Regions from separate parts of the Homo sapiens genome. Here region 1 is linked to region 2. Evidence: fine-mapped expression QTL. A gene starts in region 2. The other region holds a variant in brackets. All regions are shown on one strand. Distances are from middle to middle. Region 1 holds the start of LINC01988 (long intergenic non-protein coding RNA 1988). Region 2 holds the start of KIAA1143.

Region 1 (16,363 bases), 330 kb before region 2:
TCCTCCTGTGCCCCACCTCGGCCCTCAGAGCCAGGCACACAAACTCTGCAACTGCATTGCACGGAGCTCTGACCCAGGGGGACTTGTCCTTGACTCCAGGCCTGCAAAGAAAAGCAAGAGGGAGCATTTCACATGGGAGAAGCCACTTGAGTGGCTGGGGGAGAGGCACAGAGCTGGGAAAGAGCAGATGTGAGAGCAGGCCTTGAGTCAGAAGGCACTAGAGATGGTGAGGGAGCAGATAAGGTGGCTGGGGGCAGAGGACTGGGTCTCTCCCTGAATGCCCCGTCCTTTAGCCACACCTGAAGACACATACCCAGCAGCTGGGGGAGGAAGGGGAGGACAGCGCCTGGATGCCCCTGGACAGGAGGGTGCTTGGCTCAGGCCACTCCCAGTCCTGGTAGGAGTGTGTGGTCAGTAGGACCCTGTAGCCATCTGCAGCCTGGGAGGCCCTAGCAGGGCTTGCCCAGACTCTGCTTGCATGCCTGCAGTGATGGATCGCTCACTCACTTACCAGGCAGCTCACAAGGTGGGGTGCAGCTCTGAACAAGCAAAACCTCTTCCGAATGGAACTGAAATCTGCCCCTGGGGCTCCCCATTGAGCTCCCCACTGACCCCACGGTCCCTGTGGGATAGCCCCTGCTAGACCCTGTGTCTCCTCCTCCAGACCTTGCAGTCTCAGGACACTCAGCTCTTCTCCAGGAATCACCTCCTTGGTGCACAACCCTCAGATGACCTTGATATGGTTTGGCTGTGTCCTCACCCAAATCTCATCTTGAATTGTCGCTCCCATAATCCCCATGTGTTGTGGGAGGGACCTGGTGGGAGATAATTGCCTCACGGGAGTGGTTTCCCCATATTGTAGTGAATAAGTCTCACAAGATCTGATGGTTTTATAAGGGGTTTCCCTTTTCATTTGGCTCTCATTCTCTCTTTGCCTGCCGCCATGTAAGGTGTGCCTTTCCCCTTCCCCCATGATTGTGAGGCCTCCCCAGTCACGTGGAACTGTGAGTCCATTAAACATCTTTTAAATTACCCAGTCTTGGGTATGTCTTTATCAGCAGTGTGAAAACAGACTAATACAGACCTGGAACCCCCTCACCCTTCCCTCATCTCTGCCCCAAACAGGCCACCACCCCTTGACACAAATTCTGCGTGGGAGACATGAAAACCTGAGATTTGGGCTTTACTCAAAACATCACCCTATCAGAGCCACAGTGCAGCAAGTTCAGCTCACCTGAGTGGGATCTCAGAACAAACCCCCAGGAGCAAGTCAGCTGAATGCATGGCCTGGGCACCCTCCCTGCCCAGGCCTGACAGCTTTTGTCTCTATGGTCTGTGATCCCCAAGGACACTCGACTCCCAAGATCCCCCCAATTCCCACTCCTGCCACTGGGGGCAGAATGTGAATTCCATGACCAAATAGCCCCTCTCCTCACAGTTGTGTTTCTAGAGTCTCTCCACCTCTGACCCTCCATCTCCTCATCTTTCAGGGAGTGGAAGAATGCGATCACCCACAGATCCCTACTCATCCCACTTCCATCCCCCCTACCCTTTCCCTACCACACACACAAACATATCCTGGCCTGGGGTGAAGTTGCTGATTTTATTAACTGCAAGGCCCCCGTCATCCAACACAGGGCACCAAGCCCACGTGAGGGGGCCCACACCCACTGTCGGTTGCCTTTCTGGATTAGAGACTCTGAGAGCTCAAAGTGATAACTGTCTTGGAAATGGGCAACAAGGCCAACTTTGATAGGAAACTGCTGCCCAGGTTTTTTCATACATCCACTGTCAGCAGAAGTGGCCCTGCCAGGCCACAGGGCAGAGCACGGTGGCTCGTCCAGGGGATTTGTTGCCCTGGAGACTCTGCTGGTGTACATTGAGCCCTGATCCCCACCCCAGCATGAACTCAGATTCCTGCTGCAGGCTGGGCTTGTATCTCTCTGGGCATTTCTATGACACTGGCTGGGGCTCTTGTGGGTTGGAGGAGCATGAGGCTTAAGAGCCCATGCTGGGTTAGGATTGGAGGCCCTGGTCCCAGTCACTCTGCCTGAGAGACCCACAGCCCCTGCCCTGGCAACCTTTCCCTCCAAGGCCCAGGGCCCAGATGACCTTGCAGGCTCCGGCCCTCCCTCTGCCCTCCAGCCTGGCCTGCTCTCCGTTGTTTGCTGGCCGTGTTGCCATGCACAAGTGGATGTCCTGGAGCACCTCATGAGTGCCCACCAGCAGTGACACCAAGGACTTCATCAAGGCCACCCTGCAAGGGGCACAGGGAGTGCACACCAGTCCTCCCGCCCACCCTGTGGAGCTGATGGGCCCTGCCCTCTCCCACCCTCAGAAGCAGCCAGGCCCTCGGGATCAGCTGACCCCAGCCTGGGGCTGACTTCCATGCTACCTCTTGTTCCCAGTGTTTGTCATAGCCTGTAGGTTGAGCAGGCTTGACAGACTGGCTTGCTCACTCCCATATTGTGCAGGGAGGAAACTGAGGCCAAGGTAGGCAGAATCCTGCCGACGTCACAGGACGTAGTGGCCGCAGATTTGAGGTTGGATCCCAGGCCCATGCCCCCAGCTCAGAGAACTCTCAGAAGGGTCAGGGTCCACCATGGGCCCATTTCCTGGAATAACATAGAAGCCCTAGTCGGAAAGAGACACGGAGCCACACCCTAACCTTTGACCTCTGACCTGCCCCACCTAGGATGAAAGCCTCTGGAGGCCTGGGTCCGGCCAAGAATCAGATGAGACCTGGGAGCCGCCTGGGTGTGATGATTCCAGGGCTGGGCTGGTGCAGCCTGCTGAGGGGCAGGGGAGGGTGTTTCTCCACCAGGACTCTGTGGTTAGGCACCCATGAGCCGGGAGCACCAGGATCTCCTCTTTTAGGTAGCTCTGTTCTTCCTTGCCCTCAGAAGTCCACTTCCTTGGTACCCAGCAACTCAAGCTCCTCGTGGCAGGGCACAGTGCTCCACTGGCAAAGCCGAGGATGCACTGCAAGGCTGGCTAATGCTCAGCGATGCCGGCCAGGCTGCACGTCCGATTCTGGCCACACCTACCTGCCGTTGCTCTGCATGCCCCACTCCTCTCTAGTGTTCCTGATGTACTTGAAGTCCATCCTGATGACGCATTTCACCTGGAGCTGCTCCGGTACAACTTGGAGCCACCTAGCACCTGTTCAGGGACACTAGTGGGGCTTCTCCAGCAGCTCCTCCTCAAACCAGGTCACTCTGTGTGCCCAGGCCAGGTCTGTGTCCTTCCCCCAGGATGCACTCCTGTACCCCCGAGGCTTCCTCCAGCCCTCAACCAGCCTGATCAAGGAGGGCCAGGTCTGTGATGGGGCTGCTTCCCACACTGCCTGAGTCACTCCATGCCTGGAGGGCTGAAAGGCAGTACCCAGAGAAAGCACAGAGCTGGGGATGGGGGTGACCCTACCTAAAAGTGTGGTGTCCACTGCTAGCTTCCTCCAGCCTCAGGCTGTCTCAAAAGGGAGCTCCATGCAGGGCCCCAGCCCCTCCCTGCCCTGAGTGCTGTCCTCAAGCCCAGGAGGCCCCAGGCTGTGCCCCAGGGACACTGGGCCTGCAGGTCCGTCATCCTGGCTTGTTCCCATTCCCACCCAAGGAGGTCTCCTGGCTCTGGCTGGAAACTAAACATATTGCTTTGACACCAATGTCAGAAGCCCAAAGAATTAAGAGTAAAATACCAAGATGGCTTGGTATTTTAAAGGAAGTTAAGGGAAGCTCTAGGAAACGTTATGTCAAAATCTAAGTAAAATTTTACTGGGTTTGAAAGCACTGGGCATGTTCCTGTGAGACCCCTGGGGTGAGTCCTGTGCTTCCAGGGAAGGTAGATGGGGCCAGGCAGATGCGGCCAGCAGAGCCTGGCCACGGGTGGCTCAGGAAGGTGCTTAAAGAGTGTAGCCAGACAAATTTTCTTAAGATTCAAAAGGAAAACCAGTTATTCCCAGTAAGGACATTGTTCAGCTTGCAGGTGAAGGCCCAGGGTGCAGAAGGGCTGAGAGGAGAGGTCGAGACCGGTGGCTGAAGGGCTGGTCCCAGGGGTCCGAGTATGGGCAGAGTCACTCCTGGTGATGAGATGGTGACAGGGATTGCTGAGAACGGTGGGGGCTCCTCACTCCTCCGGCTTTGGCCTGGCCCAGGTGGGTGCAGATGGGCAGGGGTTTCTTGAGCCTGAGTCTTTCAGAGAAGGCTTAGATGGAGGTGCAAGGGCAGGCCTCTGTGCAGGCGGGCCCTGGGGACTGCAAGGAGCCTCCTGCACACTCCTGGGCTGAAATGGGGGCTTCTTTTGTGGGCTCTCAGGAGAAACAGCAGGTGCATCTGCCTTCTGCGGGGGGTAGGTGATTTCTCCGCTTATCTCGTTCACCCAGAAAAACATGTCTAGAGGTTCCTGTCCCTGTCCAAACTGACCTCTAGACATACCTAAAAGGGAGAAAAGTGAGACAACACAGGTGGGCCTTCCAGCCTCCATATGTCGGGTGGAGGGTCAGGGGGAACTGCCAGGGCCTGGGCTTCCCTCAGCCTGAACCTTTCACCAGGGGACTCACTCTCTCCCGGAGCACCAAGCCTTCCTGGAACAGGAAGCTCTAGCCTCCTAACTGGAAGCTCCAGATGAATTCTAGGGTCATTTTCTTCTTAAATGGTCTTTTCAAAATATTTTCATCTTAACCAAGTATACTAAGTATACTTTACGTCCTGACCTAGTTCAGGGATGTGTGTGTATACTAACAATTTCATGGAACGTAAATAGTTATGTACAATAGTCTCTGATATTTTCAATTCTTTTTATGTAATTAAATCTACTATATTCCTTAAGAAAATGCTGATTGCCATTCGAATTCATTTTGTAAGGAAAGCAGCAATGATGAACCATAGCTTGAAAAACACAATCTTCAATTAAGAGAAGGATGGAGAATCTGATACAAAAGAAGACCAAAAAAATCACTCTTGCAAATTTTACACAAACATGACCATGTGTGGTCAGCAGAATTGTCCCCCAAAGATGGCCCTGCCCTAATCCTTGGAACCCACAACTGTGTTTCATTATATGGCAAAAGGGACTTTGCAGATGTAATTAAAATTATGGACCTTGAACTAGGAATATTATCCTGGATTATGCAAGTGGCCCAATCTAATCACTCGAGCCCTAAAAAGCAGAGAGCTTTCTCTGACTGGCATCACAGAGATAGATGCAGCAGCAGGAGAAGTGAGAGAGATTCTAAGCATGAGAAGGACTCAACCCACTGTTGCTGGCTTGACAATGGAAAGGGCTTACTGGAAACTGTGTCAACAAAATGAGCTTGGAAGTGGATGTTCCCCAGAGCTCCCAATAAAAGCTGGAGGTAGACAAAACCTTGATGTTAATCTTGTGAGACCCTAAGCAGAGCCACACTTGCTGACTTAGGGACTTCAGTGGTATGAGATAATAAATGGGTGTTGTGGCTGGTTCGATGGTTCATACCTATAATCTCAACACTGGGAGGTGGGAGGATTGCTTGAGCCCAGGAGTTCCAGACCAGCTTGGGCAACACAGGGAGAACTCATCTCTACAAATAATAATAATAATAAGAAGAAGAATACAAATAAATTAGCTAGGTGTGGTGGCATCCACCTGTGGTCCTAGCTACTCAGGAGGCTGAGGTGGGAGAATCGCTTGAGCCTGGGGTGGTCAAGGCTGCAGTGAGCTGAGATTGTACCACTACGCTCCATCCAGCCTGGATGTCAGAGGGAGACCTTGTCTCTAAATAAATTAATAAATAAATAATAAATAAATGGGTGTTGTATCAAGCAGCCACACCTGTGGTCATTTGTAAGAATAAGTCATTTCCTGGTCAGGCGCAGTGGCTCACACCTGTAATCCCAGCACTTTGGGAGGCCAAGGCGGGTGGATCATGAGGTCAGGAGATTGAGACCATCCTGACTAACACGGTGAAACCTGTCTCTACTAAAAAAAAAACAAAAAAATTAGCCTGGCTTGGTGGCGGGGGCCTGTAGTCCCAGTTACTTGGGAGGCTGAGGCAGCAGAATGGCGTGAACCTGGGAGGCGGAGCTGGCAGTGAGGCGAGATCACGCCACTGCACTCCAGCCTGGGTGACAGAGTGAGACTCCGTCTCAAAAAAAAAAAAAAAAAGTCATTCATTTCCCATTCTTACAAATGGCCACAAAAGGAAACGCCTATGCCATGTGAACACGTTCTCAGAATAAGTACAGGAGGCAGCCTGCAAGTCTGGGCGACTCTTCCTACTTTCTTTCCATCAAATTCCTTCACCTTCTTTAGAACAGACACAATGACTGTCAATCCTGAGAAACTTCAAGGTGCGCTACCTAGAATATCAACCAGCTCAACCAGAAGCTGATCCTGACACCTGTGTCCTACAGGAAGTTCTGATTTGCTCAGGTGGAGAGGATTTCCCCAGCATCCCCTGGTGGCCACAAGGCCATGGGGGAGTCAGCACAACCTGCAGAGATCCCCTGGTTCAGGGTGGGTGGAAACAGGGGGTTCGGGGGCTGAACAGTTAGAGGCTGGCCAGGAGCTAGGGAACTGGATAGGTATGAAGGGTTTGAAGCTTACCTGTCGGAAGGTTCTGGGGTGGAGGAGTCTGTGGAGGGAGCTTCAGAGAGCAGGAGGGGCATTAGAAGGCTGGGGCCCCTGCAATCTAATCTTTGTTGTGTAATGCGTTTCCCGCCCTATCCCAGCCTAGCTTCTGCCTGGTGATCTCAGACCCCTGCAGGGCAGCTCCCCACTCACCCCTGCACCATCCTCGCTGTCACAGTGCCTGATGCCCCAAAACTGGAAGTGTGCCTGCCATTGCCTTTCCCTGCCTGGTTTCCAGCAGTCCCATCACATGGCTCCAAAAAACAGCATCGGGGTTTTTTTCTAGAACCCAAATTTATAAACAAGGGGCAATGTCCTCTGACAAGGTTGGTTTGTGCTCAGTATAATGGTAGCCAGGGCTACCTGGATCAGGAACATCTTGTGATCCCCTCCCTACTCCCCTGGGTCTGGCTTGCTGGGCCTCACACCCTCTTCACACCCTGGTCTCCCTGAGAATTAGATGCAGCTCCCCATGTCACCAGCTGCTTACTGGGACTGCCCAGCCCAGGCCCACCTTGAATCCTCACCACGTTCCCCACTCTATGGACCCAGCGGCTGCTGTGTGTCCCATGGAGCCAGCCCATGGTGCTGGCAGAAGATGGAACAGTCGTCCTCCTGGGCTGGCCCCAGGTCACCCAAGCAGGCTTTTCTCCTCTCCTCACCTGCCTGATGGTGCCCACCCGATGTGGGGCAGTCCACAGGGCTGCTGGAGCTTAGTGAGAAATGAATCCCTTCCCAGCCCCCAGGGGCTTGCCCAGCAGCCTTTCCCCATTGGTGCTAGTAGCCTTGGGCCTTCCCAGAGACTGCTGCAGGCCTGTCCGTAGCATGAGGCCATTGCTAAGGTGAAGGAGAAGCCTCTGTCCCCTCTTCCCTCCCTGGCTCAGCTCACCTGCTCTGGCAGTGTGCTTGGTGAGGCCAGGTGTGCTTCCTCCCTTCCTCCCCAGGGCCTCTCCACCTCGGTCCACACAGGGGCAGTTTCCCCAGGAAACTCTAACTCATTCCATTACCTTCCCCCAGCTGATCTTGGAAACCCCCTTGCTGTGAATATTGGCAAGCTTAAGAGCTTATTGCCCCCACCATGGCGTCCAGCTCTTGATCAGTGTGCTTTGAGGGCTTTGTCTTCCAAGCCTTGGACAACCCTGAATGCTGGTTAGTCTTTGGCTGGCTCCAAGACGCAGTGTCACACAAGTACCACCCTGTGGACACGCTGAAGTTCCCATGGAGTCTTTTCTATCGAAAACTCAGCCTCTTTCAGGCCAAACACCGGCTCCCTTCATGTGCATAGCTTTCTAACTGGTACAATTTCCCCAAAGATAATTTAGAATTATAGTGATCACTTTGGGGAAACTCTGATATATACAAAACAAAAACAAAGCAAAATTCTGAATATCCAATGGTCTGCTGTCTTTAATTGGTATGAGGAGGCTCCTAAACACAATTTGGACTCAAAAAATGCTTCTCTAAAATATTCTTTAGCTATAACTAATATGAAATAG[G/T]AGCATCTTTTCCCTCATGTGCATCTTTTTTTTCTTTTTTCTTTTCTTTTTTTTTTTTTTGAGATGGAGTCTCACTCTGTTGCCCAGGCTGGAGTGCAATGGCACCATCTCAGCTCACTGCAAACTCCTTCTCCCAGGTTCAAGTGATTCTCCCGCCTCAGCCTCCTGAGTAGCTGGGATTACAGGCCTGTGCTACCACGCCCAACTAATTTTTGTATTTTTAGTAGAGATGGAGTTTCACGATGTTGGCTAGGCTGGTCTCAAACTTCTGACTTCAAGTGATCCACCCACCTCAGCCTCCCAAAGTGCTAGGATTACAGGCATGAGCCACCGTGCCCGACCAAGCATCTTTAAAATGTTGACATTTCCAATGCCCTTGCCACATTTTGTGAAAGGCTTCAGGTCCAAAACTGTCACTATGTTGGGTAAACAAAAATGTTGGCTGGCAAATCACTCTATTGCATAAACATCAATATTTGGCTAAACATTTTTTTTTTTTTGAGATGGAGTCTCGCTCTGTCACCCAGGCTGGAGTGCAGTGGCGTGATCTCAGCTCACTGCAAGCTCTGCCTCCCCGGGTTCACACCATTCTCCTGCCTCAGCCTCCCAAGTAGCTGGGGTTACATGCGCCCGCCACCATGCCCGGCTAATTTTTTTTGTATTTTTAGCTAAGACAGGGCTTTACCATGTTACCCAGGATGGTCTTGATCTTCTGACCTCATGATCCACCGGCCTTGGCCTCCCAAAGTGCTGGGATTACAGGCATGAGCCACTGCACCTGGGCTTGGCTAAACATTTTAAGGAGACTCTGGATATCAAGAATAAAAGACCCCTCATGAGGAAAATCTTTGTCTTGTTTGCCTAAATGACAGATCATTTTGTTTCACAGGGAGGCATCACTTCCTTCCTTTCCATAAGTTGGAGATTAATACATTCTGGCTTTTAAAAAATTGTATGGCTTGATAGAATTGTCACAAACTGAAATTATGTCAAAACCAGATATAGGACACTCTCGTGTGTGTATTGTATATATGTCTAAACTTTCATCCCTCTTCTTACAGAGAAAAATGATTAGTTATTTGTCTAAAGCCAGCTCCCTCTCATTTTTTTTCTATCCCATTTCCTCTCCTTTTCCCTCTTTTGAAAACTTAACAAAATGAAAGACTTAACAAAAATTACATTCAGCCGTTATGCATATATTCTAGGAATTTTTAGTTCAGGTAAAGTCTAAATTGTCTAAAGAAAAAAGTTATTGAACTATTTTTTATGGACACTAGAAAATGTATTTCCCTGATAACCTTTTAAACTAGCTATGACAAAAGAAAAGACGCCAACTTCAAAATAAAGGAAAATGTTAGCATGATTCACTCCTTATTAGTTTATTTTTTTAAAAAATGTTAGTACAATATTTTGGCTTATTCCAGACCAAAATTAGATTTCTTATAATTCAAACTTCCTAAATTTCCTACATTAATTTTATTTATTTATTTATTTTTGAGATGGAGCCTCACTCTGTCCCCAGGCTGGAGTGCAGTGGCACAATCTCGGCTCACAGCAACCTCCACCTCTCAGGTTCAAGCGATTCTCCTGTCTCAGCCTCCCGAGTAGCTGGGATTACAGGTGTGTGCCACCATGCCCAGCTAATTTTTTGTATTTTTAGTAGAGATGGGTTTTCACCATGTTGGCCAGGCTAGTCTCAAACTCTCGACCTCAGGTGATCCACCCGCCTCGGCCTCCCAAAATGCTGGGATTACAGGCATGAGCCACAGCGCCCGGCCCACATTTATTTTGTAAATGAAATGTTTTCATCATTTCCATAACTTATTTAAAATAAAAAATTTTGACCGGGTATGGTGGCTCACATCTGTAATCCCAGCACTTTGGGAGGCCAAAGCAGGTGGATCACTTCAGGCCAGGAGTTAGAGACCAGCCTGGCCGACATAGTGAAACCCCATCTCTACACCAAAAATACAAAACTTAGCTGGGCGTGGAGGCACACGCCTGTAGTTCCAGCTACTCGGGAGGCTGAGGCACAAGAATCGCTTGAACCCAGGAGGCGGAGGCTTCAGTGAGCCGAGATCATGCCATTGCACTCCAGCCTGGATGACAGAGCGAGACCCTTTCTCAAAAATAAATAAATAAAGTAAAATAACAGATATAAATTCACCCTTGAAATATAGAGCACTCTCAAAAACTGAATTGACTTGACTCTCCCAGAAATCGAAGCTCATATGACTAAAATAATTGCCCTCACCCAGGCATGCCAACTTGTGAAAGTGAAGTATGTAGTTATGCTGGTAGTAAAGGGGCTTTTGTCCACAAATTCAGAGTGCTTAGAGAACCCCAGGGGAGGAGCTCAGTGGGTGGAGTCTCCAGAGATTTGCCTTGGAGGCTGTTGGGACAGCAGGAGTGAGTGCTGTGATTGGCTGGGACCTCGATGTCACAAAGGTCAGGGACAGCTGCCAGAGAATGAAGCAGAGGGCTGTGGGGTGAAGGGACTGCCAGTCTTCTGCCACTCCTTTTCGTGGTCCTTCCCTTCACTGCCTTCCTTCTCCCAGACAGACTGGGCATCCAGTTCCAATCCAAAGGCTGCCCCTTTGACCAGGCCCATCTTCTCCACCTCACATCAGACAGCCAATCGGCTGCCCAGACCTCGAAACCTCAGTAACCTAGAAGGTAAGGACTTTCAGATTTCACCAGGAAGGATTATCCCTTCATGCCTTATAAAAGTAACAGAACCGGTCGGGCACAGTGGCTCATGCCTGTAATCCCAGCACTTTGGGAGGCCAAGGCAGATGGATCACCTGAGATCAGGAGTTTGAGACCAGCCTGGCCAACATGGTGAAACCCCCTCTCTACTAAAAATACAAAAAATTAGCCAGTCATGGTGGCACACGCCTGTAGTCCTAGCTACTTGGGAGGCTGAGGCAGGAGAATCACTTGAACCAGGGAGGCGGAGGTTGCAGTGAGCCAAGACCTCATCATTGCACTCCAGCCTGGGCAGCAAGAGTGAAACTCTGTCTCAAAAAATAAATAAATAAATAAAAACTAATAGAACCTATCAATTCATAGGAAATGGACCTTGGCAAACGTGTGTCAGGAGAGGATGACTTGGAGGTGTCCACCGTGTTTCTTACTGAAGGTTTGTTCAAACCTAGAAATTCACTTGGGACAGCTTATGAGCCCTCTCCTATTCTTGGGAAAGCTTTTAAATTGTCTGACAAAGTCTGTACCCCTGGAGCATGGGTTAGTTTGTTGAAGTCCACAGACCACACAGTTTCTTTGAAGGTGTGCAGCATGAGGGTGAGTTCCTCTATTGCCCACTGATGGAGAACTCACTTAGGCTGTCTTTTCTCTCCTTCAGATGTCTAAAAGTCAATTGGGGTCAAGGAACAAGCCTCTACTCACATGCATGTGGGCAAATGAAGTCACAGAACAAATAACCTACCCTGCATCCAGGTTAGATCCTCCTGCACCATTTCCTGCTTCTCTGCGGATCCTGCAATGTGGACCCCTGTCTGGATGTGGTGCTGGGGAGGTGGCTCCTCCCTGTCCCAGAGGCCCATCTCGTGTTCCCACACAGGCACGGAGTCCAGGGACACCCCCTGCTGCTGCCTAAGAGAAAGTGGCCCAAGAAGCACTGGCCCGGTGCCTGCTGATGCCAGGAGCCCTCTGCTACTGCCTGACACAAGCATCCTGCGCTTCCCCCTCCCAGGCCCTCCCCGAAAGCGTGGGCCACAGGTACCACTCCCTATGCCACTGAGCCCCACATTTCCCATCCCCCAAGCCACTCCCACCAGCCCCAGAGCTTTCCTACATTTATGATTTGTCCAAAAATGTGATGCCCTTCAGCCCCCAGAAGGTCATCCTCCAGGCTGTGATCGTCACACAGGGGGTCCCACATGGGGTCCTCACAGGCCTTCAACCCAGCACAAATCGTGGCCTGGTTTGACCTTTGAAATATCTCAACATCTAAAATTCAGAGCTTTTTTGGAATATTTATTTTCCATAGATATAATTCTTTCAAATAAATTCCTTAGAAAACAATATCCAGTGTTTCATTATTTGTGCTAACATGTGCTTTTCCCATTTTGGAGATGAAAAATATCATTAGAAATAAAAACTCAAGGGACAGATTAAACATCAGATAAGATGCAGTTAGCAGGCCGGGCGCAGTAAAGGTTGCAGTGAGCTGAGATCGCGCCACTCCAGCCTGGGCGACAGAGCAAAACTCCATCACCCACGCACAAAAAAGATAAGATGCAGGTAGCAGAGGGGCCAAGTGAACTCAAACAAGATCTGAAGTGCAATCTTCCTTAAGGAGTCCAGAGATGGGTGACAGGACATTTGAAGGAAAAGTTCCAACAGAGCACAGACAGGCTCTAGGAGATCACACAGGGAAAGGGGAGGCTACATCCAAGAGATAAAGCTGAGAATTTCCCAAAATTGATGGAAAACAGGAATTCTCAGAGTGAGGGATGCCACTGAATCCCACAGAGGATAATTGAAAACATCCACACTTAGTTACATTGTAGCAAAAGCATGAAACACTGAAGATAAACCTTGAAAGCTGCTAGGGAAAATATCTGATGAATTGAAATTAAAAATGATAAAATTTAATGAAATAGTATCATTAACATACTGAAAAAAATCAGACATCTCAGATTTGTACGTTCAGCTAATTATTCAACAATTAGGGAACTATGAAGACTTTCAAGATAAAAAGTTTACCATGAGCAGACCTGGACTACAGGAATGTCTTGCTAAAGAACGGTTTTGGTCTGGGCACTGTGGCTCATGCCTGTAATTCCAGCATTTTGGGAGGCCGAGACAGAAGCAACACTTGAGGCCAGGAGTTCAAACCAGCCTAGCAAGACCCCCATCTCTACATAAAAGTTTTTAAAAAATTAGCTGGGTGTGGTGTTACGCACCTGTAGCCCTAGCTATTCAGGAGGCTAAGGTGGGAGGATCACTTGAGGCTAGGAGTTTGAGGCTGCAGTGAGTTAGGATAGCACCACTGCACTTCAGCCAGGGCAACAGAGCAACACTCTGTCTCAAAAAAAAAAATAAAATAAAATAAAGCAGTGTTCCTTAATCTTGGCACTCTTGACATTTGGGACTGGATAATTCCTTGTTGTTGCGACAGCACTGGGCAGTGTAGAATGTTTAGCAGTATCCCCGTCCTCGAGATGGGGAGGCTGGCACCTCATGTAAAATGTTTGGCCAGGTTGCAGCCTGTGTTAGCTTGGAGGGTGGATCATAATTTGACCAAATCTGTGGCATTAGGAAAACGGCAAGAATCCAGAATGCTGGTTTTGTTGGCTCCTCCTTGGCTGCTTTTAACAAAGTCCTGTGAGAAAAGTGGTCTCTGGCTGGAGCTTGCCAGTGTGCAAGGAGAGCTAGAAGGATCCAGAGTGTTGTTAATGTAGGTAACCCCTGACTGGCCTGCCACACACAAACAGTTGAATAATTTGGTGCCTTGCAAGTTTGAAAAAAATCAGCCACTCATACACCCCAGCCAAGGCAGTTGTGAGCTGTGGCTCTGAAGAGGCAGTCTTTGTAGGAGATAGCCCTGGTGCTGCTAGCAAAGACAAGATTTTGGGTGTTGCTTCTCATAGCAAGCCTATGATATTAGTGAACATGGAGAGATCTGGCACAATCAAGCGTTGCTAAAAGGAACTCAAAGGCCTGCTACAAATTTCATAGAGCTGGACATAGGCCATCCCCAGTGAGCCAGGACAAAAACTAGGCAGAGCCCAATGTCCATAAAGTGTGGGCTGGATGGCTGAGCACGGTGGCTCATGCTTGCAATCCCAGCACTTTGGGAGGCTGAGGCGGGTGGATCACCTGAGGTCAGCAGTTCGTGACCACTCCGGCCAACATGGTGAAACCCCGTCTCTACTAAAAATACAAAAATTAGCCGGGTATGGTGGCGCATGCCTGTAATCCCAGCTATTTGGAAGGCTGAGGCAGGAGAATCACTTGAACCTGCGAGGCGGAGGTTGCAGTGAGCCGAGATACTACCACTATACTCCAGCTTGGGTGACAGAGTAAGACTCCGTCTCAAAAAAAAAAAAAAAAAAAAAAAAAAAAGAAAGAAAGAAGAAAAAAAAAAGAGTGGGCTAGAGCTCCACAGTGGTATCATCATACACAGAATACCATGATATAATGAAAATACAGCATCATCACATGCAATGACATACATAAAACTGACAAACGTAATTTTGAGCAAAAAATGCAAGACAGACAATACTTTATTACTTCATTTCTATAAAGTACAAAAACAGGCAAAAGTAAACCATATTTAAAGATGTCTATAACAGTGGTAAATACTGTGTAAAGGTTGTCGGCTACTTCTGACCTAAAGGGTGAAAACAACCACAGACAATATGTAAATGAATGAATATATCTGAAGATTATATGAAATTTATTTTTTATTTTTTATTTTTTTGAGACAGGGTCGCTCTGTCTTCTGGGCACCATTTCAGCTCACAGCAACCTCTGCCTCCTGTGTTCAAGCTATTCTCCCATCTTAGCCTCCCAGCTGGGATTACAGGCATGAGCCACTGCACGTGGCTACATGTTTTGTATTTTTAGTAGAGACGGGGTTTCACCATGTTGGCCAGGCTGGTCTCGAACTCCTGACCTCAAGTGATCCACCTGCCTCAGCCTCCCAAAGTGCTGAGATTACAGGCGTTGAGCCACCATGCCCAGCCCTTGAAATTTAAATTTCAATGTCTCTAAATGAAGTTTTATTGGAACACATCTACACTCATTTGTGTGTGTGTGTCTGTGTGTGTGTGTGTGTGTGTGTGTGTGTGTGTGTGGATGGAGATAGAGAGAGAGGGATTTATGAATTTATGATAAGGAATTGGCTTATAGAATTAAGGAGGCTGGCAAGTCCCAAATCTTCAGGGTGGATGAGCAGGCTGGAGAACCAGGAGAATACATATTCCAGTGAGAGCCCAGTGGCACCTGCTGTGGAGCAGGATTAGTAGATGGTGTGCATGAACTCTGAAGGCAGTCTGCGGAAGAATTCTCTCTTGCCTGAGAGAGAGTCTGGGGCAGCCAGACTTTATGTTCTCCTCAGGTCTTCAGGTGATTGGATGAAGCCCACCCACAGATAGAGGGCAATCTGCTTTCCTCAAAGTCCACAAATTTAAACGTTAATCTCATCCAAAGCAACCTCACAGAAACACCCAGCATAATGTTTGATCAAATACCTGGGGACCTTGTGGCTCAGCCAAGTTGACACCTAAAATTTACCCTCACACTCCAGTCCTCCAACATCCCAGCTTCCCTCTTACATCCCTGAATGGCAGAACCCAACAAGGAACCAGCTGGCGAAGCAGCATCGTGCCTGTTCTTTGTTGCCTGTGTTTTTCATTTTAAGTCGGTGGAGTTACAACCCATGGATTCCTTTGTGTCTGCTTCCTTTTCATTAAAATTCTGCTCATGGATTCATCCCTGCAGTAGGTTCATTTTCAGGTGGAAGTGTAGGAAGCACAGGAGATCACAGAAGACCTCAGCAGGCCAGCTTTGCAACATCCTAACAAGGAGACGGGAAACTGAAGTACCACAGGAAGGAGATACTCTCCATCTCTCACCACCCAAAGCTTCCTGGGATGCTAAGGGTCATCGTTCTTTTTTTTTTTTTTTCCCGCTCTGTTGTCCAGGCTGGAGTGCAGTGGCACTATCTCGGCTCACCACAACGTCCGCCTCCCAGGTTCAAACGATTCTCCTGTCTCAGCCTCCCCAGTAGCTGGGATTTACAGGTGCCCGCTACCACGCCTGGCTACTTTTGTATTTTTAGTAGAGACAGGGAGTTCAGACTGGTCTCGAACTCCCGTTCTCAGGTGATCTGCCCACCTCAGCCTCCCAAAGTGTTGGGATTACAGGTGTGAGCCACCGTGCCTGGCCTAAGCCTCACTGTTCTTTTCATCTTTCCTGCTGAGACAGGAGATTGAGGATGTGGACATTTTGTTGAGGAAAGAAATAGGACAGACAACTCAATGAAGTCTCAGAGAGCCATTCTAAGAACCCATGTTCTATTTCCAGAACCCACGTCAGGCCATTACTGGGGGGTCTGATGGGGTTATGAGAGAAATGCCCAGGGAGGGAGACTGGAGAAGGTTCAGGGACCAAGTTCTGGCTTCTGCCCTTAGAGGAGCCGGACCTGCAGAGAGAGAGTGGGAAAGTGGAGAACCATCAGCTCACTTTCCCTCACGCCATGGCAAAAGCATCTCCATCAGGCAGGACTGGCTTCA
Region 2 (16,363 bases):
AGAAAGACCCTCAGTCTCTCAGCCTCCCATAAAGATTTACGAGGATCACGTCTCTCAGGGGGAAAATGAGGCAGGAGAATAGGGTCTGGAGACAGGGAACCTAAGGCTGATTCACATTGACTTCCTAGAACTGAATCAAAAGGAAAACCCCACCTCTCCATACCTAAGTAACAAAAGGATCAGAGGCTACTCCCTTTGCAATCCCCTTGCCTTTTCTGCATTGCAGATGAAAAATGAAAGTGCCTCTGATTGGTCCCCTCCTGCAACCAATCAGACTGGTCATAGGCCAAGTCCTCATTTACACAGGAGTATAACTTTGTAACTTCACTTCAGCCTCTGATTGGTCACTTTCTGCACCAATCAGACAGGTCACGGGCCACTACTTCATTTACACAGGGTGTACGCCAAGTAACCAATGGCAAACCTCTAGAGGATATTCATTGCTTTGTGCGTTTTGTTCAATTATTTGTCCAAAATGCCAAGAACCTGGACACCCTCCACCAGTAACAGTTTGACCAGTTATTTATTGTATTACTTAGGACTGCATTTGGCTGCATATAAAAGAAACCTGACCAAGGCCTAATTAAGCACAGTGTTTATTCTTCTCACTACCAAGAAGTCAGAGGTCAGCAATCCAAGCTGGTGTAGCAGCTCCTCCAGGCATGTCAGCAAGGAGCCAAGCTCTGAGTCTTTTTACTAACATGACCCAAAGCACATGGCTGCCTTCCTTATGCCTAAAAGTGGCTCTGGTACTCAGGTTTTATCTCTGCACTCCAAGTAGGATGAAAAGATAAGAGCAAAGGCTCATGTTTGCCAAGTCTGTCCTTTTGTAACAAAAAACCCAGCAGCTTTATCAAGCAGAATTCCACCTGTATTTCTTAACTTGCCAGAGCTGAGTCTCATGGCCACCCTTAGCAGGAGTTGGGGAGGTATTTTTAACAAGGCACATTATCATCTCCCCCACCCAAAGTGGAGCTATTGCTAATGAAAAAGATACAATGAGATGTTTATGAAATTATCTGTAGCTATTAATGTCAGGTTTTTGAAATTTACTGACCTGGAAGAATACTCGTAATGCAATGTCAAGTGAGAAGCAGGACAAAGAACATTTGCAATACAGTTGTATTTATAAAATTTTGTTTACACACAAAAAATGTATTTTGCTTAAAAATATAATTTACATATATATACAACCACACAAGGGAAATAACAAAATGTTAATACTAGCTAATTTCTATAGAGTTGGCATTTTAAGTCAGAGGGGTATTGATGAATAGATGTAGTTTATTAAATTTTTTTCTCTATTTCCTAAACTTTCTATAAAGAACTTGTAGTATCTTTATAATAGGAAAAAATGTGATTTTAATGAACACTCCATATACTTTCAAAGTAGACTAAATTCAAAATATTTACACTTACTCATTTTCATCTTCGTTGTCAAAAGAAAGGAGGCTACTATTTTTAATTTGTTTTTGTGAGTTCTTTTTGACCGAGTCCTGATTTACTTCATCTTCATTTGGCTTCTTCTTTTTTGAGCTTGCTGTTAAACCTGAATATTTTTCATCTGAGGGATGCTTGACTGGTTTTCGATATATGATTCTTCCATCGGCTGGAGTTGGTTCTTCATCTGAGCAAAAACAGAATTTTTAAGAACTTTCTTCTCCTCATTATTTTGCCTTTACCTTAGAAGCAAATAATAAGAAAATCTCATATTGTATTTAAGGATATCCCTGAATCTGATTCAGTCTGGTCTTCTCCATTGTTTCTAGCTATATTGCCCTCAAGGCATGCAGTTACTTAATAAAAACTCACATGCTAAAGTATTCTATAATATTGTCAGTTCCCAATTACAATCAGGTTGTATTTTTAAGTAGTTTGAAAAGTGACTGTTTGGAACTACAGCATTTTCCCCTAAAGCAATGTAGTAAATGTTCAGAAATAATGAAAAATATACTACATATCATACCAAACTTCAGGCAGTAATGAAATACACCTTTTTTGACTGGTTTATAAGTCTAACCATCTATTTAAAAAAAAAAAATAGGATGCTTTTACTTAAATTCACACTTAATCCTGGTAACAACCCAATAGGTACAATTATTTCCATTTTACTGATGAGGAAATCGAGGCTGAGAGGTGTAATAACTTGCTCAAGGTTACACATCTGGTAAGTGTCAAAGCTAAGGCTTGAACCCGGAACTGCCACCTTGAAACACACCACACTACTAAATAAAATAAACAATTTCATACCCTGGGCTCCTTAAATTGTTAGAAAAACCAGATTACTTTTAGACCTACCTGCTTTGGCAGCCTTTATTTCTGCTTTAATTTTCATGACTTCTTCAACTGACAGGTCTCCCTTTTTTAAAACCACCACTTGAGGCTGTTCATCTTCTTTGTCACTGTGATCCCCATCTTCATCTGGGGGCTGAGGCTGAATTCTCTAGGGAAAAACACAAATACAATGTGTAGATCACTGATCTTGAGACAAACAGAACCACTGCCTCTAAGAGAAACTGTAATTATTTATGAGAAGGGTATCTTTATTGAGTAAATAAGGGCAATGAATTTTAAGGTAACTCCAAAGAGACTTAGCTTGCCACACAAGGGAACAGGTTTAACTGCCATTCAGCCTGGAGTGCCTGTCCGGTGGGATTCATTTCCATCTCAGCAGGACCCAGCTTGTAGTTACTAGTGTGAGGGACCCTCTGCTTTGGGTACTGCTGTCACTCCTAGCCTACTCAGGGCAGCACTGTGCCATGTCAGTTGTTTGCTCCTCATCAGCACTTTTTGCCTGTCTCTTCTCTGAGTTAGACAAGAAATAAACACCATCAAAGTACAGAAAGCAGCAAGTAAAACGTACTCTCTCTCTCACCTCTGCTCATCTTTTCCCCCTCCTAATAGCTTCAGTTTGGTGGATATTCTATCAGCTATTTTCCACGTCTATACAACTATGTAGGTACATAAAACTTTTTGTATACCAACAACACTGTACTTATTCCTGTGACTTGCTTTTTCCCTATTTATGAAATTTCTCAAACATAAAGTACAGAGAATAACATAACAGAAACCATGTACTCCCTGTATATGTGTAACAGATGGTAATATTTTGCCAGTTGATTCAGATTTTTGAAATGTGAGACACCGTAAGAGCCCCACTCCCACAACTTAACTCAAAAAATATCTTTGTACAGTACTTTAAGATATAGAATTATCTGATTTTTAAAAAATCACTGCCTTGCATTTAATTACATATATGGTCACCTCAAGATTTATTTGACCAGCATCTTGTAAATACAAATTTTGCTCGTTTCCAGATTTTTTTCTACTATGAAAAAACCTCATGCACCCATTTTTGCTCACTTTTGGGAACTTGTATGCAAGAACTTTTAATGTTAACAGTTCACTAGAGGTGGAACTGTTGGGTTGAAAGGTATGCATACCAAAATATGTTTTCATATGTTATTCAAACACAATCACTCATTACTCCACTTCTCATAGAGACTTCCTGGTCTCCCAAACAAGGCGACAAAGCCCTGCAAGAATTAGCCTCAGCCCATAACCACAGCTTTATCCTGTACCACTCTCTCATGGCATCTAGACTCTGGCATGGCAAGGTTTGAGTACTTGGAGATTTATAAATATATTAGCTCCTTTGCTTCCCCTGTCTCTGAACAAATTCCTACGGCTTATTAAGCCCCACAGCCCCTGAGCAACTCCTACTCAAGCTGCCTTCCAGATTTAGAGCCTCTAGAAGTGCTTACCTAAATCTCACCTTCTCTTGTTTCTTACACTGTGCATAGCTCATAGGTAGCATGTATTGCACTGTGGTACCAATGTTTTTCTGCTGGTTTCCACTGGGCAAGTGCCTTCTGGAGAGGCACAAAGCCTGGAAAACAGCAGGGACTTCCAGAAATATTTGTTGATCTACTCATGAATGACCAACAGAATGGAAAATGATGAACTACATGAAGCCCTGGCAAGTTGCTTGTGCCATTTTAACTATAACTCAAGTTCTCAAGTCTGCTCTATCACTGCACAAGTACATTCTCTTTAATGGTATCTATGTTAGTTCACTGATTATTCATCAGTTTCTGCCAATTTTTCTCTGAAAGTCTCCAATAAATGACCACAAATAGGTAGTAAGTATTTTTAGCCAAAAATATGGGAAAGTGAAATAAAATCATTCCTTTTGTTTGTTAAATTGAGAATAATTAATTCTGACTCTCTTCTCTTTTTTTCTTTTTAAATGTGACTGCCTGGAAAACAAGAGAAATAGTCTAAGGACAGTGGCAGTAGCCACTGATGACTGTTCAGAGACATTTCTGAATTAACTCTCAAGAAAGTGAATAGGGCCAGGCGCAGTGGCTCATGCCTGTAATCCCAGCACTCTGGGAGGCCTAGGCAGGCAGATCACTTGAGGTCAGCAGTTCAAGACTAGCCTGGCAAACATGGTGAAACCCCCCGTCTCTACTAAAAATACAGAAATTACCTCGGTGTGGTGGTGGGCACCTGTAATCCCACCTACTTGGGTGGCTGAGGCAGGAGAATTGCTTGAACCCAAAAGGTGGAGGTTGCAGTGAGCTGAGATCGAGTCACTGCATTTCAGCCTAAGCAACAGAGAAAGACTCCGCCTCAAAAAAAATAAAAGTGAATAGGATGATTTAGCTTAATTATGGAATGATTTCCCATGAAACTCATTTCTTTTTGTTAATAGATGACTAAAATCCTGACTGCAGTAGTCCCCTCCTTATCCTCAATTTCATGTTCCACAATTTCAGTTACCTGTGGTCAACTGTAGTATGAAAGAAGGGTGAGTACAGTACAATAAAATATTTAGAGACAGCAAGCAAACAAGCAAATTCACACAACTTTTACTAGAGTATATTGTTATGATTGTTCTATTATTAGTTACTAATCTGCTGATATTCCTAATTTATATAGTAAACTTCATCATAGGTATATATGTATGGGAAAAAACATAGTATATATAGAATTCAGTATTATCCACTGGGGGTCTTGGAACATAATGGGGGAATACTGTATATTGCCAAACTGATTAAAAATGAAGTGGTTCTCACACTGAAACATGGCGTACTTCTCTAAGGGAAATTCCCTTGAGTACATAAATAAGCGAAAATCACTGATATTACTTGGAAAGGATTCCCGAAGTTCTCTTAAGATAGCATTCCAAGCTGTAACCTTCAAGCTGTCAACTGTGCATACAGGGTCATCACCAGGACCTCAAGCAAGGTAAAGCTGGGTCTCATCTTCTCCTCATCGCTCAATCTATGTCCCTTTTCTCAAACCTTACCCTCTTTGTCATCATCCCTATTTTTAGTCATGGGGATCAGTCATTCCCTGTGTTACCTCTAAGAAAAAAATGGCTCCCTGTTGCTTACTAAATAGTCCACATGGCCTCACCTCCACTAGCCCCTCTAACACTTCTACATACAGTCCATGACTCTCAAATCTCTACACCTTTACCCATGCCATTCTCTTCATCTCTACCTGCTGACCTAACCATGCTCGAGAGTCTATCTAAATATCCCTCCTCCACGAAGTCTAACCTGATAACAGCACAGTCACCAACAAATACAACTGTTACCCACTACTTCGTGCCAGGCACTGTGCTAGGTGCTGGGAAAATACGGAAGGATTAAGATACTAACTTAAAGAGTTCAATCTAGTGGTGAAGATAAACAGGAAAGCAAGTAGTTGCAATATAAAATGAATGTTATAGATAAGATATGGATAAGGTAAAGAGAAAAACAGAAAGAGTAACTGTTTGGAGAGCTTTGAAGGGTTTCGGAGAGATGGTAACTTGTGAAAATAGGGCAGGAAGTGTTAAAGAACATGGCATTTTGGAGATCCATCTCTTCGTCCTTTCAGAGCCTGCGACAGTGCATGGGGTTAGCACATACTCATTCTACTGGCATACCTTGAAGATACCGCAGATTTGGTTCCAGACCACCACAACAAAGCAAGTATCAAAATAAATTGTCACACAAATTTTCTGGTTTCCCAGTTCACATAAAAGTTATGTTCACACTATACACTAACTACAGTTAGTATTAAGTATGCAATATCATTATGTCTAAAAAAATCTAGATCCCATTAAGTACACGATTCATGGGAGGAGGCAAAATATCAACATTAACAGGAGTCTGGAAGATGTACCTACCTTAATTTAAAAATACTTTATTGCTAAAAACATTAAAAATCATCTGAGCCTTCAGTGAGTCCTAATCTTTTTGCCAGTGAAGGGTCTGCCCTTGATGCTGATGGATGTTGACTGATGAGGGTGGTGGTTGCTGAAAGGCGGGGTGGCTGTGGCAATTTTTAAAAATAAGACGATGAAGTTTGCTGCATTGAGTCTTCCTTTCACAAAAGATTTCTCTTTTGTGATGCTGCAATGCTGTTTCATAGCATTTTACCCACAGCTGAACTCCTTTCAAAATTGGAATCAGTCCTCTTAAACCTGCTGCTGCTTTACCAAGTAAGTTTATTCTAAATCCTTTATTGACATTTCAACAATGTTCACAGCATCTTCACCAGAAGTAGATTCCATCTCAATAAACCACTTTTTTTGCTCATCAATAAGAAGCAACTCATCTGTTCAATTTTTATGAGACTGCAACAACTTAGTCACATTTTCAGGCTCTACTTCTAATTCTAGTTCTTTTGCTTGTTCTACCACACCTGCAATTACTTCCTCCACTGAAGGCCTGAATCTCTCGAAGTCATCCATGAAGGTTGGAATCAACCTCTTCCAAATTCCTGTTAATGTTGATATTTTGCCCTCTTCCCATGAATCATGGATGTTCTTAACGTGTTTAGAATGGTGAAGCCTTTCCATAAAGTTTTCAATTTACAATATCCAGATGCATCAGAGGAATCACTATCCATGGCAGCTGTAGCCTTACAAATGGTTTTGACTTTTTTTTTTTTTTTTGAGACAGGGTCTGGCTCTGTTACCCAGGCTCGAGTGCAGTGGTGCAATCATGGCTGACTGCAGCCTCAACCTACCTGGGGTCAGGGAATCCTCCCACCTCAGCCTCCCAAGTAGCTGGGACCACAGGTGCATGCCACCACACTGGGCTAAATTTTGTATTTTTTGTAGAGATGGGGTCTCACCATGTTGGCCAGGCTGGTCTTGAACTCCTGGGCTCAAGCAATCCACCTGCCTTGACTTCCCAAAGTGCTGGGATTACAAGTGTGAGCCATTGCGCCTGGCTGTTATTTCTTAAATAATAAGACTGAAAATAGAAATTACTCCTTGATCCATGGGCTGCAGAATGGATGTTGTGTTAGCAGGCATGAAAACCCCACGTTAATCTCCTTGTAGATCTCCATCAGAGTTCTTGGGTGACCAAGTGTATTGTCCATGAGCAATAATATATTGAAAGAATCTTTTTTTTTCTGAGCAGTAGGTCTCAACAGTGGGCTAAAAATAATTCAGTAAACCATATTATAAAGAGATGTGCTGTCATCAAGGTTTTGTTTTTCCATTTCTAGAGCACAGGCAGAGTAGATTTAGCATAATTCTTACGGACCCTAGGATTTTTGGAATGGTAAGTATTAGCTTCAACTTAAAAGTCACCAGCTGCATTAGCTCCTAATGAGAGAGTTAGCCTGTCCTTTGAAAATATGAAGCCAGGCACTGACTTCTCTCTAGCTATGAAAGTCCTAAATGGCCCAGGCATAGTGGTTTTTGAGAGGCTTTGAGAGGCTAAAGTGGGAGGATTGCTTGAGTCCAGGAGTTTGAGACCAGCCTTGGCAACACAGTGGAATCCTGTCTCTACAAAAAAATACAAAAATTAGCCAGATGCGTTAGTTCATGCCTGTAGTCCCAGCTGCTTGAGAGGCTGAGGCAGGAGGATCACTTGAGCCCAGGAGGTCAAGGCTGCAGTGAGCTGTGATTGCACCACTGCACTCTAGCCTGGGCGACAGAGTGAGACCCTATCTCAAAAAAAAAAAAAAAAAAAAAGTCCTAGATGGCATCTTCTTCCAATAGAAGGCTGTTTCATCTACATTGAAAACCTGTTTAGTGTAGCCACCTTCATCAACTATCTTAGCTAGATCTGAATAATTTGCTTCTTCATCTCATACTTTTATGTTATGGAGATGGCTTCTTTCCTTAAACCTCATGAACCAACCTCTGTTAGCTTCACACTTTTCTTCTGCAGCTTTCTCACATGTCTCAGACTTCACAGGATTTAAGAGTTAGGGCCTTGCTCTAGATTAGGCTTTGGTTAAAGGGAATGTTGTGGCTGGTTTGCTCTTCTATCCAGACCACTAAAACTTTCTCTGTATCAGCAATGTAGCTGTTTTGCTTTCTTGTCATTCATGTGTTCAATACTGATCCCTCCGGCCCTAGACAACAATAGTCAGGTGTGGCTCTTTCCTGAAGCTCCTCTTCTTCTATTTAGACCCAGGATATTTACGGCTTCTGCTTACTCTTCTTTTTTTTCTTTTTTTTGAGACGGAGTCTCGCTCTGTCGCCCAGTCTGGAGTGCAGTGGCGCGATCTCGGCTCACTGCAAGCTCCTCCTCCTGGGTTCACGCCATTCTCCTGCCTCAGCCTCCCGAGTAGCTGGGACTACAGGCGCCCGCCACCATGCCTGGCTAATTTTTTGTATTTTTAGTAGAGACGCGGTTTCACTGTTTTAGCCAGGATGGTCTCGATCTCCTGACCTCGTGATCTGCCGCCTCAGCCTCCCAGAGCGCTGGGATTACAGGCGTGAGCCACCAGGCCCGGCTTTTTTTTTTTTTTTTTGAGACGGAGTCTCGCTCTGTTGTCCAGGCTGGAGTGCAGCTGCGCCATCTCAACTCACTGCAACGTCCACCTCCCGGGTTCGAGCGATTCTGTCTCAGCCTCCGGAGTAGCTGGGACTACAGGCATGTGCCACCATGCCCGGCTAATTTTTGTATTTTTAGCAGAGACGGGGGGTTTCACCATATTGGCTATTGGCTCTGCTGGTCTCGAACTCCTGACCTCAGGTGATCCGCCCACCTAGGCCTCCCAAAGTACTGGGATTACAGGCGTGAGCCACTGTGCCCGACCTTCTCTATATTATTTTTATTTATTTTTAATTAACAAAGCATAGAAACAGATTCAGGACATTCCTCCGAAGACGTTCCAGACTCGAGTCCTAGGACATGGTTGGGGCGGGGGTCATTTGATCGAGTGGCCTGTGTCCTTATCTGGAATACGGGACGACGCTGTAACTCTAACTCACCCTGCGAACTCACAGCTTTTGAGGTAAACAAGTGAGAAAGAAGAGACAATAAAGTGATCTTTCTTTACCATCTACCAAGGACCAGGTGGTTTACACGTCAGTTCATTTTCAGGAACACAGCAGCGCTCTGAAAACTACAGAGCTTCCTGGGCGTAGGGGGCTGTGGTCGCTTGAAAAGAACCAGCCTGGGGGTCCGAGTTCCACCGGAATTGGGTTCGAGCGCGGGTGAAAAGAGGGACCCGACAGCACCCACCCTCCAAGTAGAGGCAAAAGTTGAAAGTGGCGGGCTGGCTGCGCTTCCGAAGAAACACGACTGGCGAAGGCTCACCTTAGTCTCTACGGTGGGTCCCTCCCTGTAGCCGACCCGTTCCTTGAAGCGGGCCAGAAACGCCGGCTCGGCTGGCCGCACGTACGATACCTGGTTCCGCTTGCTCATGGTAGCTCTGGGTAAAGACAGAAGACAGGTTCCGCGACGGATTCGCGACGATACAGAGGCGCTTAGCTGTGACGTCACTGGGCCACGCCCCCGATGCGTAGGCCGGGCAACATGGCGGCCTCCATGCGGGCGTCAACGTCCGATCCAAGCGCCAAATTCAAATTTGCGGCCATCTTGAGCGGGCGGAATTCAGTCGCGCGCGGTGCAGTCGGGAGGTGGAGGCACCGGCTGCATTGTTTTCGGGATCGAGGGGTGAGGGCGCTATGGCACCCGGCTGCAAAAGTAAGTCTGGGCCCCCGGCTTCGTTACCCTATTTTTGCCCCCAAATACAGCTGTGAAAGGATGGCAGCCTCGGACCGCCCGCAAGGTTCTTGCTAGGCATGAACTGCAGGAGCTGAGTGACCGGCGGGGACGTTTGGGAATCCCGCTCTGTCGCTCAAAGACAATACGCTAGCCGAAAAGCTCATCCCTTCCTTCAGTGTCCTGTGCGCATGCCAGGAGTCTGGCGCAGTTCTAGGCGCTCGGGATGAGCAGTGGACCTGACGTTCTTCCCTTTCTTTCCCTTGGTTCTGCTGTTTCTTCGCAGGCCTCTTCCCACATCCCGACCAGGGCTACCTCTCTAGATATCCTTGTCTCAGGATCGGCTTTTGCTCCCACCAGCTTCTGCGTATTTCTACATTTCTGACCTTCCTATAGGGAAGGGTTTATTTATATTCCAAACATTTCTTTCTCCTCTTTCCTTAAATAAATGGAATGTTAAAACACAGATGTCAGCAATGTCTTTATGTTCTCACAGTCTCTATTTTCACTTAAAGGAGACCCGTCCGATTTCTTTCTCTTTTTCACGGAGGAGAGCACTGTCATTTTGCTTATGATAAACCCTACAGTTTTCACTAACGTAGTCATTTGCTGTGCCTGTGTACGTGCTCCACTTCTCACATTGCCACATCTCTTAAGGAGTCTTATTTTTGTAAACCTGATTATGAGCTGATTTAATGGGATCTTTGTGAGTGGTCTGAATGGTAATGAGGAGAGGCCTGGATTAGATGATTAAGAATTTGTGAACTTCTGTCATTTGAGCTTTCCAACGCCGTTAATGTTTCTAGCTTTCTGTCAATTGTAGTCGTTTTTGATGGGTTTGTTGTTTCATTAATCTTTTAGGTCGATCACACCTAATCGGAACACCTCCTTATGCTACCTTTTTGCATATAAAATATTCCTTTTCCTTTCATCATTTTCAGTATTCAAGGACTATGAGCTCACAAAATGGTACCTTATTGGAGAGAAATGTTCATCCTGCTTTCTGAACAATCATACTGTTTGTTCTTTGTTTCCACTTTATGGATCAGTCACTAAATCTGGACTCAAGCAAAAAATTTGATGCCTGTTAAATAAGTAAAACATCTGCTTATTTAATGAGATATATGTATGTGACTGAGGGCTCTTGTCTGAAAACCAAATTTGAGAACCTTTCTAAAGTGGTGGGAGCACTCTCCTTTATGATGGTGGTGATGCCATGGGGAACTTTTCCACTCCTTTAAGTTTGTTGGCAAAATTGAGGTTGATGACTTCCCAGTTAAAGTGCTTCTTGCATTCCCAGCAGCCCAGAGGCCTGGAGCATGAAGTGGGAACACATGGGAGAAGAGAGCCCGTGCAGTGGTCTTTGCAACTTTTACTTTGTGCCCCGAAGGCTATCTCTCTCTCTCTTTTTTATTTTTGAGACAGAGTCTTGCTCTATTGCCGGGCTGGAGTGCAGTGGTGCGATATTGGCTCACTGCAACCTCCGCCTCCCGGGTTCAAGAGATTCTCCTGCCTGAGTCTCCCAAGTAGCTGGGATTACAGGCACGCGCCACCATGCCCAGCTAATTTTTTTATTTTTAGTAAAGCCGGGGTTTCACTGTGTTGGCCAGGATGGTCTCGATCTCCTGACCTCGTGATTTGCCCACCTTGGCCTCCCAAAGTGCTGGGATTACAGGCATGAGCCACCACACCCGGCCCCATGAAGGCTATCTCTAGTGACATCATTGACACCATGAGTTGCTGACTGTGAAATCAGAGAAATGAAAAAGTGAAATATACGATTCCCCCCTTTTTTTTTTTAAAGACAGTGTTGCTCTGTCACCCAGGCTGGCTGGAGTGCAGTGACGCAATCTTGGCTCACTGCAATCTCCACCTCCTGGGTTCAAGCAGTACTCGTGCCTCAGCCTCCCAAGTAGCTGGGACTACAGGCGTGCACCACCATGCCCTGCTAATTTTTTGTATTTTAGTAGAGACAGGGTTTCACCATGTTGCCCAGGCTGGTCTTGAACTCCTGAACTCAAGCAATCCACCTGCCTTGGCCTCCCAAAGTGCTAGGATTACAGGCGTGAGCCACTGCACCTGGCCTAAGATTCCCTTTCTGAACCCAATCATGTTTGGGCAAATGACTGATGAGTATTTATCTAGACTGCAGAGTAAAGCATCCAATGGTCTGTTTTAAAGCAGGAAGACTCTTTAAAAGACTTACTGTTTTGTTGAGGTATAGCTTCATGCAGTTAAGGGCACAAATCTTAATATTATTCAACAAATTTTTACATATAAATACACTAATGTAACCACCATCCAGATCAAGAAATAGAACTGTTCCTGTACTCCAGAAAGTTCCCTGTGACCCTTCCTAGTCAATAACTACCTGATCCCCAACCATTACTCTGATTATTATTATCACTGATTAGTTTTGCTTCTATTCTTGAACTTAATATAAATGGTACAGTATGTATTCTTTTTTTATTCTGGTTTCTTCAACTGAACATTATGTCTGTGATCATTGTCCATCATTGTATGTAGCAGCAGTTCTTTTTCATTGCTGTGTAGTGTTCCATTATGTGAGTATACCATGATTTGTTTATTCTCCTGTTGATTGACATTTGGGTTTTTATTATAGTTAGGGCTGTTATGAATAAAGCTACTGAGAATAGACTTAAGCATATTTTTAGATGGACACATAGAGGACCTCAAAGTTGAAAGAATTTTACAGTGAATGCCTATAGACTTCATTTTTTTCTTTTCTTTTTTGAGACAGAGTCTTGCTCTGTCACCCAGGCTGAAGTGCAGGGGTGCGATCTTGGCTCACTGCAACCTCCATCTCTGTTCAAGTGATTACTCCTGCCTCAGCCTCCTGAGTAGCTGGGACTACAGGCAACCACCACCAAGCCTGGCTATTTTTTATATTTTTAGTAGAGGCAGGGTTTCACCATATTGGCAAGGCTGGTCTCAAACTCCTGACCTCAAATGATCCACCCACCTTGGTCTCCCAAAGTGTTGGGATCACAGGTGTGAGCCACTGCACCCAGCCTAGACTTCCTTTAAATGTCAAAATTTTATGACAGCCACATGATAAACTTTTATACTCTCTTTAACCTTTGATCAAGAGGTAGCATATTGAGGTGGTTAAGAGTAGGAGATCTGGATTTAGCATGCCTTCGTTCAAATCCTAGCACTTCTCAATGATGTTTCCTTAGATCTCAATTAGAAATAATGCCAGAACTATCTACATTTGTGTAGTTTTAAATTTCACTTTCTCTCGCTATTTGCTTATTAACTTTTCTTCTTTTTTTATCAAGTAAACATTTTACTTTGGGTTCCTTTTAGATTTACCAGAAAGTTGCACATAAGTGCAGATCAGTATCCATCTAATCATTTTCCATCTGATCAGTTACAGAGATCTCTGCAGAAATGAAGAGCTGGCAGCCTACCTTCTGGGGCTTCTTATTGTTGTTTGCTTGTGTATTTGCTTAGCAACTGGCTGGATCAATTTAGTGAAGTCTATTTCCCTCCTATACTGTTAAGCCTTTGATATTGCTCCTCAGGAATCCAAAGCTCCAGCTTTGGATATGCCCACCTTTATCCTGGGATGACAGTGGTTTTGGTAGGGATCTCTTTCTTTCTATGACTGCACACAGCTGTTAAACTCCAGTAATTGTTAGCTGATTGCTCTATTGTTTTTTAACAATGCCCTGGGCATAAATTGTCTTACAAACTACTTCAATTCTTGCTCCATTGAAGGAGTAGTTTTTGAGGTTTTCTTTCATATTTCTTGTGACTCCAGTGTAGCTACTCCTAATTGTCTTATATCCCCATTGTCTTCTGCAAGTGAACAGGCCTGCAATTTAGCTTGTATCTTGAATGTCTTCCTAATTACTTTCACTAAAACCTACACTGTTCCTGAGAGTGCCCTTAGGTTTGAACTTCTCTCCACCCCCTCTCCCCCAGACGGAGTCTCGCTCTGTCACCTAGGCTGTACCACAGTGGCGTGGACTCAGCTCACTGCAACCTCCACCTCCTGAGTTCAAGCGATTCTCCTGCCTCAGCCTCCCAAGTAGCTGAGATTACAGGCATGTGCCACCATGCCCAGCTAATTTTTGTTTTGTATTTTTAGTAGAGAGACGGGGTTTCACCATGTTGGTCAGGCCGGTCTCAAACTCCTGACCTCAAATGATCTACCTGCCTCGGCCTCCCAAAGTGCTGGGATTACATCATGAGCCACCACACCTAGACAGGTTTGAACTTCTCTATGCTTTGTTGCAAATGAATTCAGCTCCTTTGGGAAGAGATTAGGAGTTATCTGTTTATGGGCTGATTCTTCCTTTAGGCAAAATCTCAGAGCCTGGGGACTTGAGTTGGGGATGGGGATAATGGCAGTCTTGTCTCTGAGTGATACCCTTTGTAGTTGCTGAGCATTTTGTGGGGAAGGTGGGGAGTGTAGCAGCCCACCTTCTAGACTTTCCTTTCCTTGTGCAGAACCACTGCCTAATGAGTTGGGGCAAGGGTGATCAGGGCCCCAGTGTTCTTAGCATGCAGTTGCAAGATGAGGGCTGTGTGGGAGAAGGGAGAGCCCTCACCTCTCAACCACACTTGTCTGGGACTTTATCTGAGCATCAGGTAGCTAGCTGGAGACACAATGATACACTGACATCCTGCTACTCTGTGGAGGAACCCCTTGCAATTAGGAGCTGGAGGGATCCCTGTGTTCTTGGCTGCTGCAATCTACAGTGGAGTGTTTGCCTTGCTGAGATGGGAGGGAGACAGCAATCTTGTTTCAAATAACACAGGATCAACTTTCTTGATGAATTTTCATGAATGTTCTTGAACAGATGTTTCTTGGTTTGCTGTTTGTCTTTGGGAACATTTCCAGAGGCTTTAATTTTCTTTTCTTTTCTTTCTTTCTTTTTTTTTTTTTTTTTTTTTGAGATGGAGTCTCACTCTGTCTCCCAGGCTGGAGTGCAGTGGCGTGATCTCGGCTCACTGCAAGCTCCGCCTCCTGGGTTCACGCCATTCTCCTGCCTCAGCCTCCTGGGTAGCTGGGACTACAGGCGCCTGCCACCATGCCTGGCTAATTTTTTGTATCTTTAGTAGAGACGGGGTTTCACCGTGTTAGCCAGGGTGGTCTCGATCTCCTGACCTCGTGATCCGCCCGCTTCGGCCTCCCAAAGTACTGGGATTACAGGTGTGAGCCACCGTGCCCGGCCAACTTTCTTTTTTTAAATTTCACCAGTTTCACTGGGGAGTGGGTCAGTGGAATTCCTCATAATGTCATGTCAGAAGTCAATCTCTGAACTCTTTTTTAACAGAATTATTCTGCCCGCTAGGTTGAGAAAAGATGAGAGTGGGGGAGAAAGAGAAGCAGAAAGACTATTGTAATAACACAATAAAGAGATATTGCTGGCTTGGTTCTACACTGTGGCAGTGGATTTGGCAAGAAGTTGTTGGATTGTGGGTATATTTTGAAATTAGAGCCAAAGCTTTGCTGAGATTGGATACGAAGAGTGAGAAAGAACAGGGTCAGGGATGACTATATGGTTTTTGGCCTAAGCAACTGGAAAGATGGAGTTAACGGAGATGTAGAAACACATTTGGGCTAGAGGTGGGGTGATCAGGAGCTCAATTTTGGACACATTAAATTTGATTCATTGCCCACTGCATATCCAGTTAGAGATATCAAATAGGTAATAAGTTGTAAGAGTGTGGAGCTCGGCTGGGCGTGGTGGCTCACGCCTGTAATCCCAGCACTTTGGGAGGCCGAGGCGGGTGGATCATGAGGTCAGGAGATGGAGACCATCCTGGCTAACAAAGTGAAACCCCGTCTCCACTAAAAATACAAAAAATTCTCAGGGCGTGGTGGCAGGCCCCTGTAGTCCCAGCTACTCCGGAGGCTGAGGCAGGAGAATGGCATGAGCCCGGGAGGTGGAGCTTGCAGTGAGCGGAGATTGCGCCACTGCACTCCAGCCTGGGCAACAGAGCGAGACTCCATCTCAAAAAAAAAAAAAAAAAAAAAGGAGTGTGGAGCTCAGGACAGCAGTCCAGGAAGGTTTAAATTTGTGAATCATCAATTTGTACCTAGTATTTAAAAACAGGCCAGGCATGGTGGCTCACTACTGTAATCCCAGCACTTTGGGAGGCCAACGCGGGCAGATCACAAAGTCAGGAGATCAAGACCATCCTGGCCAACATGGTGAAACACCGTCTCTACTAAAATACAAAAAATTAGCCAGGCGTGGTGGTGCACCCTGTAGTCCCAGCTACTTGGGAGGCTGAGGGCAGGGGAATTGCTTGAATCTGGGAGGTGGAGGTTGCAGTGAGCCAAGATCGTGGCACTGCACTCCAGCCTGGTGACAGAGCAAGACTCCGTCTCAAAAAAAAAAGAAAAG

Evidence for each region. PIP is the estimated chance that this variant, and not a neighbour inherited with it, causes the effect.
Region 1: its variant is fine-mapped to the expression of KIAA1143 in whole blood (INTERVAL, PIP 0.94).

The regions. Positions count from the first base shown.
Region 1 is chr3:44,417,387-44,433,749 of GRCh38, forward strand. LINC01988 (long intergenic non-protein coding RNA 1988) reads left to right here and starts at 10,536. Exons shown (of 4, transcript NR_144436.1): 1 at 10,536-10,772; 2 at 11,169-11,238; 3 at 11,461-11,555; 4 at 11,680-12,143. ZNF445 (zinc finger protein 445) reads right to left here. Exons shown (of 8, transcript NM_181489.6): 8 at 14,319-16,363. It also overlaps the pseudogene C3orf86P. RefSeq lists an enhancer at 7,458-7,597. The variant G/T (reference allele first, on the strand shown) is at 8,097.
Region 2 is chr3:44,751,926-44,768,288 of GRCh38, forward strand. It overlaps KIAA1143, which reads right to left and starts at 9,694. Exons shown (of 3, transcript NM_020696.4): 1 at 9,570-9,694; 2 at 2,299-2,443; 3 at 1-1,627. The coding sequence starts at 9,677. The coding sequence ends at 1,416. It overlaps KIF15 (kinesin family member 15), which reads left to right and starts at 9,869. Exons shown (of 35, transcript NM_020242.3): 1 at 9,869-9,959. The coding sequence starts at 9,941. RefSeq lists enhancers at 8,207-8,849, 9,640-9,919.